Linked DNA regions of Homo sapiens: region 1 is linked to region 2. Evidence: fine-mapped expression QTL. Tissue or cell type: monocytes after Pam3CSK4. Region 2 holds a variant in brackets; the other region holds the start of a gene. All regions are shown on one strand. Distances are from middle to middle.

What was found. PIP is the estimated chance that this variant, and not a neighbour inherited with it, causes the effect.
Region 1: it holds the start of HES1, and the variant in region 2 is fine-mapped to the expression of HES1 in monocytes after Pam3CSK4 (Quach 2016, PIP 0.95).

What each region holds. Positions count from the first base shown.
Region 1 is chr3:194,131,028-194,139,204 of GRCh38, reverse strand. HES1 (hes family bHLH transcription factor 1) reads right to left here and starts at 3,057. Exons shown (of 4, transcript NM_005524.4): 1 at 2,717-3,057; 2 at 2,493-2,588; 3 at 2,157-2,244; 4 at 473-1,522. The coding sequence starts at 2,824. The coding sequence ends at 972. RefSeq lists enhancers at 944-1,133, 2,931-3,090, 1,900-3,099 and silencers at 1,164-1,363, 4,090-4,629, 4,700-4,979.
Region 2 is chr3:194,094,867-194,103,043 of GRCh38, reverse strand. The region is part of intron 4 of LOC102724877; the gene reads right to left. Among named protein-coding and RNA genes, the nearest start is that of LINC02028, 28 kb to the right of the region's middle. RefSeq lists an enhancer at 1,818-2,107. The variant C/A (reference allele first, on the strand shown) is at 4,317.

The DNA of each region.
Region 1 (8,177 bases), 36 kb before region 2:
GAGTCTAACTAACTGTCCCTTGGCAGAAGGAATCTGTTGACCTTTTCAGCTTGCTTTAAGAGGGTGCGGAGAGGAAACTTTTGGGTGCTAGGGAACGTCTTATTTGAACCAAAGGATTGGCTAATTAATGAAGACCCCAAGTCTTGAAGGAGGCGCAGCAGTTGGAAGTGTTTTTGCTTTGGATGCTGGTGAGCTACCCTGAGAGGAGAGCTGCAGGAACCACCCTTAACGTGCAATGGGCAATAGGATTGGATCCATTAGCTTCGTGAATTTAGTCCTGTTCAATCTTCCTCAGGAGGAGCTAGAAGAACAAGGGCTGCAGACTTACCCGACTGCAACTTAAAAACATTTTTTTTGGAAATCCTTTAAGAGACTGACCACAAGTTTATCAGGGAAGCCTTACCAGATGGCTGCTTGTAAAGTAAATGGAATTTAGTCTTTTTAGTTCATGGAGGATTGGTGAAAAGTTTGATGGATTTTTACAAATGTTCTTTTAATAACAAAAGAGTCAATTCCTGAATTACCAATTACATGTAATTCAAATTCCACCAAAAGCCTTTTTACATATTCTGGAAGAATCAGTTCGAAGACATAAAAGCCTTTACTTTTTTCTTTTATTATATTTTCTCAAATAAACTTCCCCAAAGGAAGATATTTTAAGAGCATTTTCAAACATCTTTGGCATCACATAAAAAAGAAATCTCGTGTAAAAAACGAAATGTCATCTGAGCTTTTATAATACAAAGGCGCAATCCAATATGAACATATAAAATATATACAAATATAGTGCATGGTCAGTCACTTAATACAGCTCTCTCTACAAAAAGTAACTTCTTAGAAATTAAAAAAACACAAAGTAACCACTTAATCAAAAAAGTCCTCTTCTCTCCCAGTATTCAAGTTCCTGTTTAGAGTCCGGAGGGAAGAGAGGTGGGTTGGGGAGTTTAGGAGGAGGGGTGGCCTGAGCCCCCTCAGTTCCGCCACGGCCTCCACATGGAGTCCGCCGTAAGCGAGGGGCCGCTGGAAGGTGACACTGCGTTGGGGCCCACGGAGGTGCCGCTGTTGCTGGTGTAGACGGGGATGACAGGGCCGCTGTGCGCGAAGGCCCCGTTGGGAATGAGGAAAGCAAACTGGCCATCGGGAGCCGGTACCACCTGGAAGCCTCCAAACACCTTAGCCGCCTCTCCAGCCTGGCTGCCCAGCTTGCAGGGGGCGCCGCCGGGAGGGGGCGCCGCGCCCCCGGGGATGGGCACGAGTGGCGGCGGCGGCGCGAACGGCGCGTGCTGGGGGCCGCCGGGTCCCGGTGGGGGCGGTGGCGGCGCCTGCAAGGCGGGGTGCGGCTGCCCGGGGTAGGTCATGGCATTGATCTGGGTCATGCAGTTGGCCAGGTGGCCGAGCAGCCGAGTGCGCACCTCGGTATTAACGCCCTCGCACGTGGACAGGAAGCGGGTCACCTCGTTCATGCACTCGCTGAAGCCGGCTCGGTACTTCCCCAGCACACTTGGGTCTGTGCTCAGCGCAGCTGCGGGCCAGAAAGAGACAGACGGGTCACCGAACGGCCCTGGCCCCGTGGCCACTGCCTCCGCCCTGGGAGGTCCCTGTGGCGCGCCTCCCTGACCATGCGCCCGTGAAACTGCCTCCGGCAGGGAGGGTGAGATGGGTTTAGAAAAAACCAGCCACCTCTCCACACTAGCGTTGCTGCCAAAAGCCGAGCCACTCCTTCCCGATTCCCTGTAGCTGCATTTAAACCTATCTCAGCCCCAGATCTGTCACCCCCACCCCCGCGCGCGATGTGACCTTGGACAATGCCTCCCAATCCATCATCCAAGCCTCATTTCCCCTTCTGCAACGGGAAGGAGTGCTAAACCAGTGACCCCCAGGCTCCACGCAGTTCCAAACCGCCACAGTCCTAAGTCCTTTCGCCCCTACCCGGCGCCCGCCACCCTCGCGGCTGCAACCTCTTTCCCTCCCTTTCCGGAACAGTAACAACTTGGAGTTGTGGCTATAAATAAGCCCCAGACCGTGGGAACGCAAGAGTGAGCCAAGGCAGTAAAATGTAGCTGAATGCCTCTCACAACCACGGGCGGAAGTCTGGAAGAAATCACCGCGAGGCGAGCGGGACGCCCGCACAGGGGGACGCGGCGAGCCGCCCTCACCCGTCATCTGCGCCCGCTGCAGGTTCCGGAGGTGCTTCACTGTCATTTCCAGAATGTCCGCCTTCTCCAGCTTGGAATGCCGCGAGCTCTGCATAGAGTAGGCAAGAAAGGAAAGTGAGCCCCGTGTCAGCTGCTTCAGAGTGCTGGGGGTCCCTCCTCCCGGCCACGGAGCGCAAGCATTATCTCTGGACCCCAGCGAATAAGGCCGGGCCCTCCCGCCTGGGAGAACGCAGTACCAGCGAGTGCCAGACCCCGCAGGGCGGGGGGTTTCACTCTTAGTAGCTGAGAAAGTGTTTGTTTTTTAATTAAAAGAGCGAGCAGCATTTCCCCACTTACATCTTTCTTCAGAGCATCCAAAATCAGTGTTTTCAGCTGGCTCAGACTTTCATTTATTCTTGCTCTTCGTCTTTTCTCCATAATAGGCTTTGATGACTGCAAATAAAAAAAAGAGTTCTGTGTTCCCATGGAATCTGCCATCCCGGGGTTTCAAGACAGAAAGAAGCCCCCCAACCCCTACTTAATTTTGAGGGGCTGCAAAGAGATACAGGTACCGCCCTTACCTTTCTGTGCTCAGATGCTGTCTTTGGTTTATCCGGTGTCGTGTTGACACTGGCTGGGGTAGCAGCCACCGGGGACGAGGAATTTTTCTCCATTATATCAGCTGGCATTTTCCTTTTTTTTTTTTTTTTATCTCTAGAGAATTTTATTTTTGGAGTTCTTCACGAAAAAGAATTTTTTGTTTGTGTCTCTTTTACTTGAGACTTTCACAAAACTACTGAGCAAGTGCTGAGGGTTTATTATATTTTGTGGCTACTTGGTGATCAGTAGCGCTGTTCCAGGACCAAGGAGAGAGGTAGACGGGGGATTCCGCTGTTATCAGCACCAGCTCCGGATCCTGTGTGATCCCTAGGCCCTGGCGGCCTCTATATATATCTGGGACTGCACGCGAACGGCTCGTGTGAAACTTCCCAAACTTTCTTTCCCACAGTAACTTTCAGCCAATGGGAGGAGGAGACACGCGGCACCGCTCGTGGACCGCGCCCCCCCATTGGCCGCCAGGCACAAGGTCTGGCGGCCAATGGCGCGCGCCTGAGCCCAGGGCACCGGAGGCTACAACGTCAATCAAAAGGATTTTAACCCTTTGCTACTCTCCCTCTGGGCTTTGGTTTAGAGATTTTTTTTTTCTTTCCGCTTTGGTCTTGATCTTGTCTATTTCTTTTGGAGCCAGGGTCTTTGCTCTTTATGCCCTCTCTCATATGTAACAGAGCTGCTTTGACTGTAGTAAGTTCATTTGAAACATATTTTTTTTAAAGGTATAAACAATAAAGAAAAAAACAGCAGTGGTTAAAAGGGGGCGGGGGGAGGGGGGGACGGGTGTAAGAATGTGAGTTACCGACACATCTAAAGTTCCCGCTCAGACTTTACATTCAGGAGGGTGAAAGTAGATGGTAAAGGAAAAGGGCCAAAAAAATTTTCCTGTTTCCATGCAGAAAAAGGAAAAATTGCCTTCTACCTCACAAATGCAGGTTTTTCGGAGCAAGGTAGTTCTTGAATCCCACCCCCACCCCGTCTTTCAGAAATTCCTCGTTTGGATTTGGGGCCTTAGACCCCGGGCTTCCCCAGGAAACAATCAGAATAATTTCCAACTGGGTGGAAGGAAACGGTATTTCAAATGAAAAAATGAACAAGGGGGGCTCCGAGGGCAATGACTCAGGGACTCGCGCCCTCCTTCACCACCCTTTCCCTTTTCATCCGTAGGCTTTAGGTTCTGCGGCGCGTTGAGGTGGCGGGCAAGGAAGCAGCCTCTCCCTCCTCGCCCCGCGGGCGGCCTCGGCCCCCGGCGCCCGCGGGCCCTTTAAGAGCTACACCAGCCGAGCTGCAGTTTGACATCAGCCGGCCGGCGTGGGCGCGCCTGGAGCCGGAGCACGTGCCAGGATGTTTTATTGCCGCCGCGGCTGCGGCCGGGCCGGGAGGATGTGTGTGTGCGTGCGTGTGTGAGTGAGTGTGTGTGCGCGCGCCCCGGGGGCAGGGAGGCGGGGGGCGGCGACGGGCGGCGGAGAGCGGGGGCCGGTTCCTGGTCCCCGGGAGAAGCCAAGAAGGTAAATAGCAGCTGCTGTGCTCGAGCCTGGGAAAACCCCGCCCCCTGCGCCTGGCCCGGGCTCATTGGCGCGCGCTGCGTGTGGGGGGTGTGTGTGTGTGTGTGTCCGGGGCCCCCTCCTCCGGCCCCGCCGGGCCAGGAATCCGAGGGGGCGGCGGGCTGGGAGCCGAGCCCCGGCGCTTACCCTCTCTCCCCACCCCCGCCTCCCCAGGCCAAGGTCAGCTCTTCCCGGCGGGGAGCGCACACCCGGGGTGGAGAGTGGGGAATTCTTCCAACCCCCGCCTCCCCACCCTCACTTTCGGGCTTGGGGTTTTCACTCGGCCGAAAGCCGCATTCGCAACAGCCCGGGGGCGAGGTGGGGGCCTCCAAGTTTGCTCCTCGCCCCCGCCCTCTCCCCGCGGGGCCCTGGGCGCCCGCCGCGGTCACGGGATGCCTGACCGCACTTAGGAAGCGGCCGGGTCAGCCTCCTGCCTCCGCTCGGCGACTGCGGTTAAAGCGGCTTCGCGCCGCCCGCCCCTTCCCCGGGTCCCGGGCGGCCGGGCCGCTCCCCCTCACTACGCCCGGGAGGCCGCCGGCGGGCGCCCGGGAGGAGGCGGGCGGCGCGGGCGGCTGCGTGCTGCCTGCTGGCCGGGCCGCGCGCCGGGAGGAGTCGCCGCCGCCGCCGCCGGGTGCCACGTGGCGGGCGCCGGGCCGGGAGCGCCAGGGCTCTGGCGGCGGCCTCCCTGGGGGATTTGCCGAGCCGGGCGGGCGGCGCGCACTGCCTGGGCCGGCCGGCCGCCTCCTCCGCCTCCCTCCCGCCTGCCCGGGTCGCCGGCCCCCGTGCCCCCACCCCCCCTCCGCCCTTCCCGCCGCCTGGGAGCTCGGCTCGCGGCTCCGGGCAGCCCGGGAGCCCAGCGTCTTGTTTGATGTGGCCTCCCGCCCCCTCAGCCCTTCCCGCGTCCCGGAGGCCTGGCGCACGGTTCTCAGACACTTCATTCCTTCCGGCCTCCCAGCTCCCCACTGAGATAACGTTGTCAATGATTTCGCCAGATCTCGTCCCGGATGAGATTCAGTGGTTCCTGACTCTGGGTGACCTTGGGCAAGCCCCCCTCTCTCTTTCATTGTGGAACACACGCGCAGTGTCAGACACTGTGTTAAACCCTGGGATTTCCACGGTGAGAGATACAGTGGCGGCCTGCTAGAAGTTGACAGTAAACTGCGGGGGCAGACAGACGCTGATTTTCTGATTGATGACTGGACATTCCTTTATTTTTCCTTTCTTTTCTGAGTTAGGTGGTGGCTTGAGAGATCAGGAGGACAGAAACAAAATATGAAACCATACTTGTATGGATAACAGTATTGCTGGTCTACCTGGGTTTACAGCAGTGAGTAAGACCGTTATTGCTCTCTGGAAGCTAACAGTCTAGAGATACATATAAACGTGTACAGCTGACATCTACGGATGGCCCAGTAAATTCCTCTGGGAAGTCGTAGGTTCAAGAGAGACGTATGTCTGGATAGAGGTAAAATGCTATGGAGTTTCAGGAGAATTAAGTTACTTTTAAGTTGGGGTACCTTGGAAAACTTCCTGGAGGGATTGGCCTGTGTACCTTGAAAAATAGGTAGGATTGGGGCATTGGGAATGTGCTTAGTCGTGGGCTGGAGAGGATGCAGGTACCCATGGTATTAAAGGCCAAGATCCTGGAACTTGAAGACTTTATTCAGGGAACATGGTCTGGAGCCTAGGGAATGTGAGGGACTGGAAGAGGCAGCTTGAGGCCATGTCACAAGCTCCTTAAACATCTTGCTGAAGGACTTTGGACCTTATCTTTAGACAGTGGAGAGCCATGAAACATTCTTGAGCAAAGAAGAGGCATCAGGGTTTCCCTTTAGAAAGATGGCTCTGGCAAAAGTGGGAGAGTGGATTGCAGGGCTTGGAGGCAGAAAGGGCAGTTAGGCAGTTCAAGCCAGTGAAGAAGGTTCCTAGGAGGCAGGTGCAGACTGACTCCCAGAGGCATCTGTCTACATCCAGCTCCTCTGGACATTGACCGCACGCTCTTGGGAACTGAGTTCAACTCAAACCTGCCTACCCTTTAATGCAGTGTTCCCAACCCCCAACCAGGAACTCAGGAACTCAGATTTAATTCCTGAGTCTAACTAAGGAATCATGGCTCTGACCGTATTAACCTAAGCCTCATTTCCACCTTCCAGGATAGTCCTCCAGTCTGCAACCAAACATTTCCCTCATCGAAGGCTTTGGTTTACTCACTGTTGCCCCTAAGGCTACTCTGAGATTTTTTTTAAAAAATGTTTTCTTACACTGCAGAGTGAGCTGTGCCCTGTCATGTTCTGAAGAAATGATGAACAATGCCTCCTTTGTTGACCTGCAACCTGGGCCAAAGGGGAAGGAATTTTCTTTCTTATTTTAAACAGATGGAAAAGTGGTGATGACAGAAAATTGTCTGTTGCTTTTGGAAAACGTAGGGTTTTCCTGTGTGGTGAAAATCCTCTTGGTGAAAGGTGATGAGCCTATGAAGTTACCCTCCTTTCTGCCATGGCCCCAATAAGCTTTGCAAGCTTCTTAAAATGCTTCTACTGAGCGTCTGACTTTTTAAAAACTTCCCAAATACACTGACCCAGATTCTTCTGAGGAACTAAACCCTTCCCGGGGAAGCATGTTAACCCTTTCCAGGTTCCCCCCAAATCTTTCAGAACCAGTGCCTGCTCTGCTAGGCTCTGCCAGGCTCTGCCATGACATTGACTGCTGTCTGCTGGTCGGCCCTCATTAACTACTGGGTTATGCCACTCCCTGCCCATTCTAAGAGACTTTTTCATCTGATTCTGTTCCCCACTCTTATTTGGTGCCCTGAAGGTGCATGGGGAATGGAATATGGTCAAGTTAGGGTCTCACTGAAGGGGCTAAAGCAGCCTCGTGGGTCAAATAGTTAATCAGCAACTCGTTTATTGCCACTTTGGGAGTGCTTGGACTGGTGGAATGGGCAAGTAACTTTCACACACACGTTTTTAGATAGGGGGACAGAGGCTCAAGTAACAAAAAAAATTATGAATTTGTGTCTGGACCAAAAATAAATAAATAATAAATAAAAATAAATTCCAGGAACTCTCTGGCTTTCCACTCTAACCATTCAAGAAGAGTTTCTTGCAGATGGGCTCACAGATGACTTTTCAGTTTCCTTATGCTAGGCAGTGAAAATAGGACCAACGTTGTCCTCTCCCCACCCCTTCTCAAATGGGACAGTAAGCTCCTAAACTCAGGAAGAAGCATCTGCATCTGGAAGAATGCTCTTAGATAGATAGAAACAGCCTTTATTTTTCAGTCATCCTTTTCCCCCGACTCCCAAAGCAAAGAGAAAATGGAGCCCAGTTCATCAGTGGAGGTCACTTCTTTGATCCCCCTGTGACACCAGCATCGTTCTGAATCGTTCTCACCGTGTCATGCCCAATACATACAACCAGGGGCTCCCGCACTTGTCTCCACCCACAGCGTCCCCCCACCCCCGCCCCGGAAGGGCGACTTCTCTGTCTTACCGCATCACCTGTTTGCTTTCAAACCATAAAACAAATAACTGCATCTCTAGTGAAACTCCCCTTTGTCCCCTAGGTATCAGAGTGGTTTGTGGGTTTGGTTTAAAGCTACAGAAAGGAGAGAGCAAGAGAAGAAGAAAAAAGGTATTTTGCCTGAGGACTTGAAGCTTTTTTTTTTCCCTTTTCCTCCGCATGACTGACTTTCTCACACTCAGATTCCCTCCAGCCTGCCAGAGACGTGGTAGCTGCCCTGCCAAGAGCTATCCTGGGAGGGCTATTGAACGAGCTTTGAGTAAGTACACACACGGTGGATTTTCTCCTCCCCTCGGTACCTGCTCTGCACCTGTACAGGGAGCAGTCCCACACATATCACCTGATCACAGCCCTTTCAGGGACCG
Region 2 (8,177 bases):
TTTGGGGTTTGCAAAATATATTCTCTCCTTAGAAATAATTTGAACTATTCTAGAAATCTGATGTTTAAAAGAGCTAAGTATAGTAAAACATGGCAAGTGCTGTCCAATAGCCACGCTTAAATTAGGGGATGATTAGAGAAAAAAACAAGTAACTGTGATTGTGAAGTTCAGGGCTGTGTAGGTTAAGGGAGGCTTCACTGAGGTGGTGGCACTGAGCTTATGTAGGAATGAATGAGGTAGAGAAGGTCCTTCTAGACAGAGAACAACATAAACAAAGGCTCTGAGGTATGGGGTGGAGGGATTGGGGTGGCTACTATTTCCAGGTGGCCTCATAACGTGACTAGTAAGTACAGACCTGAGAGGTCTTTGCTGCCTGCTTCGTTTATTTGGGGCTGATTGCCTGGGTCATTTTAGGTTTCAGTCCTGTGGTTGGAGCCGTCCGTCCAAAAGTCACTGCTGTGCTTACACTGCCAACCACCTAAGACTTTTGTTTGTTTGTTTGTTTTTATTCTTCATGTGCTCTGGTGGGGGAGGTTTACTGCCAGCAGCAATGTCCTACTTCCTAAGATTTTAACATCACTTCGAGTTAAGGAGGGGAAGTTGATTTCCAGGTAGGTCATTTTTTTTTTCAACCAGTTGGGAAGGCGAGTTGGCCCCTATAGGGACTGAGAAAATAAGAGATGGCCAGAGCCCTCGTCCAGCACCATCTGAGATCTGTCACTGCCTGCTCCCCTCTGGCTGCCTGAGCGTGTCCACAGCAGTGGTGGACACAGGCTTGGAGCATGTGGTGCTCAGCCAATGGGCAGACAACAGCAGTGGAGATGCCACTGAGGGCCCAGAGAAAAGGCACTTTGGTACATCTGGGAGAGGCCACTCCCTTCCTGAGCCAGCCAGGAGAGTGGGAGCTGTACCTCTTGAAAGCCATCATGATGTGGAGTCTCTGCCGGGTCACAGTGGGTGAGACCAAAAGTGAGGGTGGGTGGCACCCATAGGAGTACATGCAGAAGCAAAATCACTTCCTGGAATGGCTGTCTGAGCAGGCAGAGGGTGCAAACACAGCCCTGCACCTTAGGGAACCTTTAGTTGGATGTGAGGACTGTGCTCTCCCTTGCTTCTCCAGGCTGCGGAGGCATTGTGCTGCCTTCTTGCAATGCTGTAATGGTGAGGGAAGGGGACCCTGCACCTGGGGGTGTGGGAGGACAGCCTGAGGGTGGATGCTTAGTTCTGAGCTCCCAAACTAAAGCCAAGGACTTTGTCTTGCTTGTATTGGACAGCGCCCTTGGGTGCTGAGTTAATATTTTACCCAGCTTGCAAATAAGGGTTATCTGTTTGTCTCTGTAAAGGACACGGGGGCAAATGGCTTTCTGCACTACTGCTGTTGGTATGAGTGCTCATTCTCTTTGGGCAAAGGAAAGGAAAGAGATGGAGCCTTATCACTGCTCCTTTTTAGTTCATTGATGTAGGTGGCCAACTTTCTGAAAAATGGCCCCAGGGGACTGTGACCCTGGGTGGATCTTTACTCTGAACTTAGGAAGCAGCTTCATGCAGTAGAAATAACCTGAAGTTTGCAGTCAGCTAGGAGTGCATTCAAATTTCTCCACTTCCTAGTTGTGGTACTTAGGGAAGTACCTTCGCCTCTTAAAGCCTCAGTTTCCCCATCGGTACGGCAGGCATGAACTGCTCTCCTGGTTGGGTCGTGAGGTATGAAGGGGAGAGCGCAGTGGTATCTCCTGTGCTTGCTGGTTAGCTCTGAGTCTGGATGTGACACAGCTCTCAGTGGTCTAGAGATTGAGAATCGAAAAGCTTTCGGTTCATGAAAAACCATCTCAACGTCAGAGCTGGGGGCAAGCAGAGAAACCCAGGGTCAACCACTTCATCGGCCAGAAGAGGAAACTACACCTCGCCCTGCAGGTCCCCTGTGGCCACCACACCTGTCCTCAAACCTGCAAAAACACCACAGAATGGGGACTCCGGCACCCCCAGGCTTTCCGGACCTGTCCTCAGCATCCTCCTCCCCACCACCTGACCTGGCGCTTACTCTCCCAGCTCCATTTCGCCTTTGCTTTTGGACTTGGCCCTTGCTAGTTCCCAGCTCTGGCCTCAGGTCCACTCAGCAGTGACTCTGATCACATGCCCGGTGCCTTGCTGCTGGCTACCTCTGATGCACACACCCCGCATTGCAGTGGGGCCAGGACCTTAGTCCTTCAGAAGAAGGCTTTTCTCTCTCCCTTCTTCCCCTGGGTGATGTGTTGGTTTCTCTCCTTCCTCCCTCTCTCTCCTTTTTATTGCTTTTATAGTTATGGGGAGCAGTCTTTAAAGATTGTTGGTGAACACACCATACGCCTGCTTCATCAAGCAGTAGGTATCTGCCAGAAGAAAAAGGATGTCCTTGATGTGAAAAAATAAAAAAAGGGCTGTCAGCCCCTCCTTCGGTGGGCAGAGGGAAGACTCAGGCCAGCTCCTGATAGCAATGACTGAGTCCAGCTCCTCTAGACACTACGGAGTGTCTTGAAGAATTCATCTCCCTATCCCAGCCTTAGTTTCTTTTTTTTGTAAAATGGGGCAATCATGATTCCAATCCAGGCAACTTCATCGAGTTGCTGTTGGGACCACAGCAGGCACTGGATATGAAAACAATACATGGTAAAGCTACAAACCCCTGTGCACTCTACAGGGGTTGCTCATGGCCGTTTTCAGCTCCCTTCTGGGCTGAGGCCTGTCTATTTTCAACTGGATGGGTCTGAGTTGTGTGAAGTAGCTTCCTGTGAAGGCCCCTCAGTTTCCAGGACTGGAGAAGAACAGCAACTAGTTGCCTCTGATTCCCGCTCCCCAGCCCCTTCTCTCTGGACCGTGCCTTGTGGGCGGTGGGTGGTGGGGAGGCTCAAGGGATCCTCCAGCATCACTTTGCTGGGAGTGTGACTCTCCTGATGGCAAACACACCAGAACCGAGAGCCCCAACTCCCGGAATCCTCAGTTACAGGTGGCAGGGAGAGGTGGAGTCCAGGGAGAAGTGTGGGGCTTGCATGGGTGACATTGCATTCCTGGATAAGCAGGGAGAAAAGTCATAAAGGACAGCCATCCCTACTGTTCAGGTGTAACATGGCCACCAGTGGCACATGAATAAGGCATTTACATTCACCTCGAAGGTGCCAGGAGACTTGTCCAGACCTTCCTGAGGGAGCACAGCTCCAGTTTGGACATATTTACTAGTCTATTCATTTGTTCACAGATTTGTTTGACTATTTCTTCAGTCATGGCATATTTATCAAGTACTTACTATGTATCGGAGCCATGCTAAGGGTCCCGCATACATCTTGTCTTGTATTAGAATAGGTTAGGTAATGCTGTGGTAACAAACAACCTCAGAATCTCAGTGGCTGGAGGCAACAGGCATTTGTCTCTCACTGATGTTACATCCTCTGGACAGCTCTTCGGCAGAGGGATGTGCTGATGGCTGCCAATCCGAAGGGTGCTGTACCATCTGACGATGCCACCTTCTCAACACGGGAGCTGTTCTCTTTCCTGGCTGTTGCTGCGGCCAGGGAAGAGAGCACAGGAAATGTGCACCAACTCTGAAACGCTTCTGCCCGGAGGGGACACTCGTGACTTCTGCTCACATGTCATTGGCCAGAGGATGTCACATGGACATACCTAACTTCAAGCGGGACAGAGAAGTGTAATTCTTCCCTGGGATGGGAAAGGAAATATGGGAATGATGTGAACCCCACTAATCTCTATCCCATTGTAATCCCTACAACAAACTTGCCATGTGGTTATTATCCTGATTTGATACACGAAGAAACTGAGGATAAGCAACTCCTCCACACTCACACAGCTGGCAAGAGGGAGAGGTGGGATTTAACCTTGGGAAAGTCTGACTGCCAAGCTTTTGCTATTTCCTTGGTGTCGCCCTTTTCATGTTCACAAAATGGCTGTATCATAAGGCAGAAAAACTGCAGCTTATCAGTCAAAGAAGGATGGATAGCGTGTTGTGTAGTTTTAGAGGAGGAGAGATCACCTCCTGTTAGAGAAATCCGGGAAGACTTCACTGAGGTGGTAGCTCTTGCCTCTGGATCTTGAAGAATAGGACAGATTTGGACATTCAGAGATGCCAGTTCTTTCAATCTGTCAGTTATTCCTTCTGTGTGCAAGGTGGGTGGCTTCTGACGTCTGGAAAACCATTTGTAAAGTCCATTTAGTTCACGCTTTTAGTTTAGTCACACTCTTCCCTCACAAGAGAAGTCCTAGCGTGATGGTGAGAGGGAGGGGAAGTAGTTATGAACCGGGTTTCACCAAAGGAGCTTTCCTGGAAGAGG[C/A]CCTGGGGAGAAATCTGATGCAGTGGGTCGAATAAGAACGGGGTTTTCCTGCAGCTGTATTGCAGCCTTCATTCCTTTCTCCCTCCCTTCCTCTCCTCTTTCTTCTCCTTTCCCTTCCATTCCTGCGTCCCTCTCTCCGTCATTTCCTTAGTGCCTGCTGTCTGCCTGGGACAATGCTGAGTGCTGGGGCAGGGGAGGAGGCACACCCAGATTTTGGCTCCCTGGAACTCTCACACAGTTTAACGATGGGAGGGATAAGGTTGCAGGGCCCCAGAGCCCCAGTGTTTGCCTAGAAACTCAAGAAGAAACCTCCAGTGAGAGGCAGAGTGACCCATTGAGGGGTGTGGGTCACTTGAGGAAAAAAAAAAAAAGAAAAGAAGCCAGCCACACAGAGAACAGAGTCCCCACTGCCCTGTGGTCAGTGAGCACTGCTCCCTAGCTTGGGCCGGACAGCTGGCCCCTCTGGGCTCACTCAGGCCGACTGCACCTGGCCTTGCTCACAGCTGTGCTCCTCTGAGCTGGCCCACACCAGCCAGCAACCAGTTCTTGTCAATGCAGCTAGAGCAGACTGTGGCTGCCTCCCTGATTCTCCTCCACCTCTTCTCCCCAACCCAGGGAGAACTTGCAGTCTGGGGACAGAATCTGTACATCAGGGATGGTTTTGACAAACTAAGGAGGGAGAGGAGCTGGAAGACATCCTTGCACCCATGCTGAGGCTTGGCTGTACACGTTTCCCTTCCAGGATTCACAGGCTGCCAGCAAAGGGCTTAAGATTTCAGCTCTGCGGAAACTATGATCAAGTGCCTTTTTGGGGTCCAGGGATGAATGCACCCCTATTTAACTGTGTCTGTGTATCTTCTACCTTTAGATCCATTTTCCTATTCACAGGACCAGAGTATTTCAGCGCTAGGAGTGATCTCACAGGGTTTTTAGGCCAGTGGTTGCTAAACCTGATTGTCCTCCAGGAAGCCTTTAAAAATACACATTCCTAGGCTCTGAGCCCAGAAGTTCTGACTCCGTAGGTCTGGCCCTTGTCCCTTCCAGTTATTGATTCTGCAGGTCCCACGCTCAGAGGGGGTAGTCCCCCGGGGCCAAGGAAGCCGGGGGAGTGTGTCAGTCGCTTTTGCTTGGCGACCACCTTTCCTCGTGTGAATTTATTGTTCTCATTAAGGAGATGGGTCCCAAAACGTGCTGAGAGGACCAACACTTGTTTATTGTGCTCTGTGAGTATTTGTGGGCTCCCTGAATGCAGGTCTGGGTTTCCGTGCTGGCTCGGTTCCATTTCATCAAGGAGAAGGAGCCCTTCCCAGGGGCGGATGAGCATTGTTTTCAAGCCACGGTTGCCCTCCCAAGGCTTCCCTGGAGCCAGGGGAGCTCATCAGCCAGAAAGGTGCTCACCAGAGCTCAAGTCTGCCCTGGCTGCCTGATGGAGAGGAGGGGCTGCAGGGGAACGCTGCTGACCTACACACACACACCACACACACACACACACACACACACCAGGCCTGGCTGAAGAACATGCTGTCTCCTGGAGGAACTGAGAACCTGGGCATTTCTCTGGGAAATCACCTTTCATTTCCAAATTCCAAGAAGTGCTTCCAAAAAAGATAATAGTTTTGCTGTGTGTCCAAGAGTTTGCTTGTGCAGGATCTCATGTGCTCTTTGCAGCTGCCCTGGTAGGTGGAGAGGACAGGGCTTATCCTTTTTGTGCTCTAACTGAGCAAACTGAGCTTGGAAAGGGCATCTGATTCTGAGTATTTAGCACTAAAGGGCTATGCTGTGTGAAATGTACCCTCAAATTCTTCAGAAAAGAATTCTGTATGTGTGTGGAGTGGGAGAGTGCATGCAGGCACACACGATGGATAAAGCAAATGGGGTAAAATGGGAGCAACAGTGAATCATCTGGGTAAAAAATATACAGGTGTTCTTTGTACTATTTTTATTTTTGTAATTTTTTGAAATGTAAAATGTATTTCCAAATAAAACAATGTTAAGGGGGTGTGGTTTATTCAAGGACATGGAGCAGGTTCCTTGTCTGTGGAAGGCCCACTTGTCACTTCTTACCATCTCTAGATTGATATATTTCTTTTTTTTTTTTTGAGATGGAGGTTTGCTCTTGTTGCTCAGGCCGGAGTGCAGTGGCGTGATCTCGGTTCACTGCAACCTCCGCCTCCTGGGCTCAAGTGATTCTTCTGCCTCAGCCTCCTGAGTAGCTGGGATTACAGGCGCATGCCACCACGCCTGGCTAATTTTCATATTTTTAGTAGGGACAGGGTTTCACCATGCTGGCCAGGCTGGCCTCGAACTCCTGACCTCAGGTGATCCACCGGCCTGGGCCTCCCAAAGTGCTGGGATTACAGGTGTGAGCCACTGCACTCGGCCGATTGATACATTTCTTAGTCTCAAACGCCAGTTCCTTTGCTCCACCTTCCCTGGCCTCTTACACTAGATCGTGTGCCCCAATTGCATGTACTTTTCCTTCCACTTATCCCTACGGGTGGGACTGAATTATTTAAAATTTAATGTCAATTTATCCTGCTGGACTATAAGCTCTATGAGGGCAGGACCTCTACCGTCTTGCTCCTGGCTGTATCCCAAGGGCGTAGCACAGTGACTGGAATATAGTAGGTGCTCAGTGAACGTCTTCCGAAGGAGTTAATGAATGGAGTGAATGCATGCCAGTGCACGGGCCGCAGATGCTCACAGGGGGACACACACATGCACACGTGCTCGTGCTCTATTTTCTTAGTGAGATTGCTCTGCCACAGGCAGGCTGGGGATGCCAAAATTTGGAGGACAGCTGGCAGGGTGGCATCATGCCTCTGGAAATGACATTCTGGGAACAACTGACATCCTTTGGGAAGCTAGAATGATGCCCCTTCCCAGCCAGTGCTCCCCTCTCCTCCCCACCTCAGGCCCAGAGGCTCTTCCGGGGGAGAAATGATGCTCTTGCAGCAGGTGGCAAAGGGATCCCAGGGCCAGTGGGCTGTCAGTGGGGGCAGGGATGCTGTGTGGAAACTGCTGCCTTTCCGGAAACAAAAGGGCCCTTTAGAGTCACTTGATATCATGTCTTCCTGTCTGGGCCTCTGCCAAGCCTCCCTCTTCCTACTGTGGAACAGCAGGCACAACAGCGACCTGACCTGTGCCTGCTCCTCCTGGGGCACTGCTGGGGAGCCAGGGCAAGCACCGAGCAGGAACAGAGGTGCCTGGGCAGGCTACACATGCCAAGGTGTGCCCATTAACTGAAGTTCTGATTTTAATTTTTGAGTGATACATCCACATATTCACAATTCAAAAAGTGTAAACTACATGCTATGAAAAGTCTTCCTCCCAACCTGCCCTCCATCCATCCAGTTTCCCCTGCCAATGTTCTCAGTTTCTTAAGAATCCTACAGATAGTCGGTGCATGTACCGCCAAATATGCGTATTTCCTGCAGTGGTAGAATTCCATATACCCTGTTTGTATCTTGCCTTTTTCACTTTATGATATGTCTTGGCGCTCTTTCTATGGGTCCATAAAAGAGTGTCCTTGGTTTTTTGGTGTTTGGCTACATAGTATTCCATGGTGTCAATGTTTCATATGTCTAAGGAACATTTTATGGGAACCTTTTGTTCCTGTACGAAGTGAAGAGTATTGAGGAGTGATAGTTAGAGATGCCAAAAACCCGAGGCCTGCACTATCCAGTACAGTAACACCTGTCTCCATAAGGCTACTGAGCACTTAAAATGTGGCTAACCAGGCTGGGTGTGGTGGCTCACACCTGTATTCCCAGTACTTTGGGAGATAAAAGGGGGTGGATCACCTGAGGCCAGGAGTTAAAGACCAGCCTGGGCAACATGGTGAAACCCTGTCTCTACTAA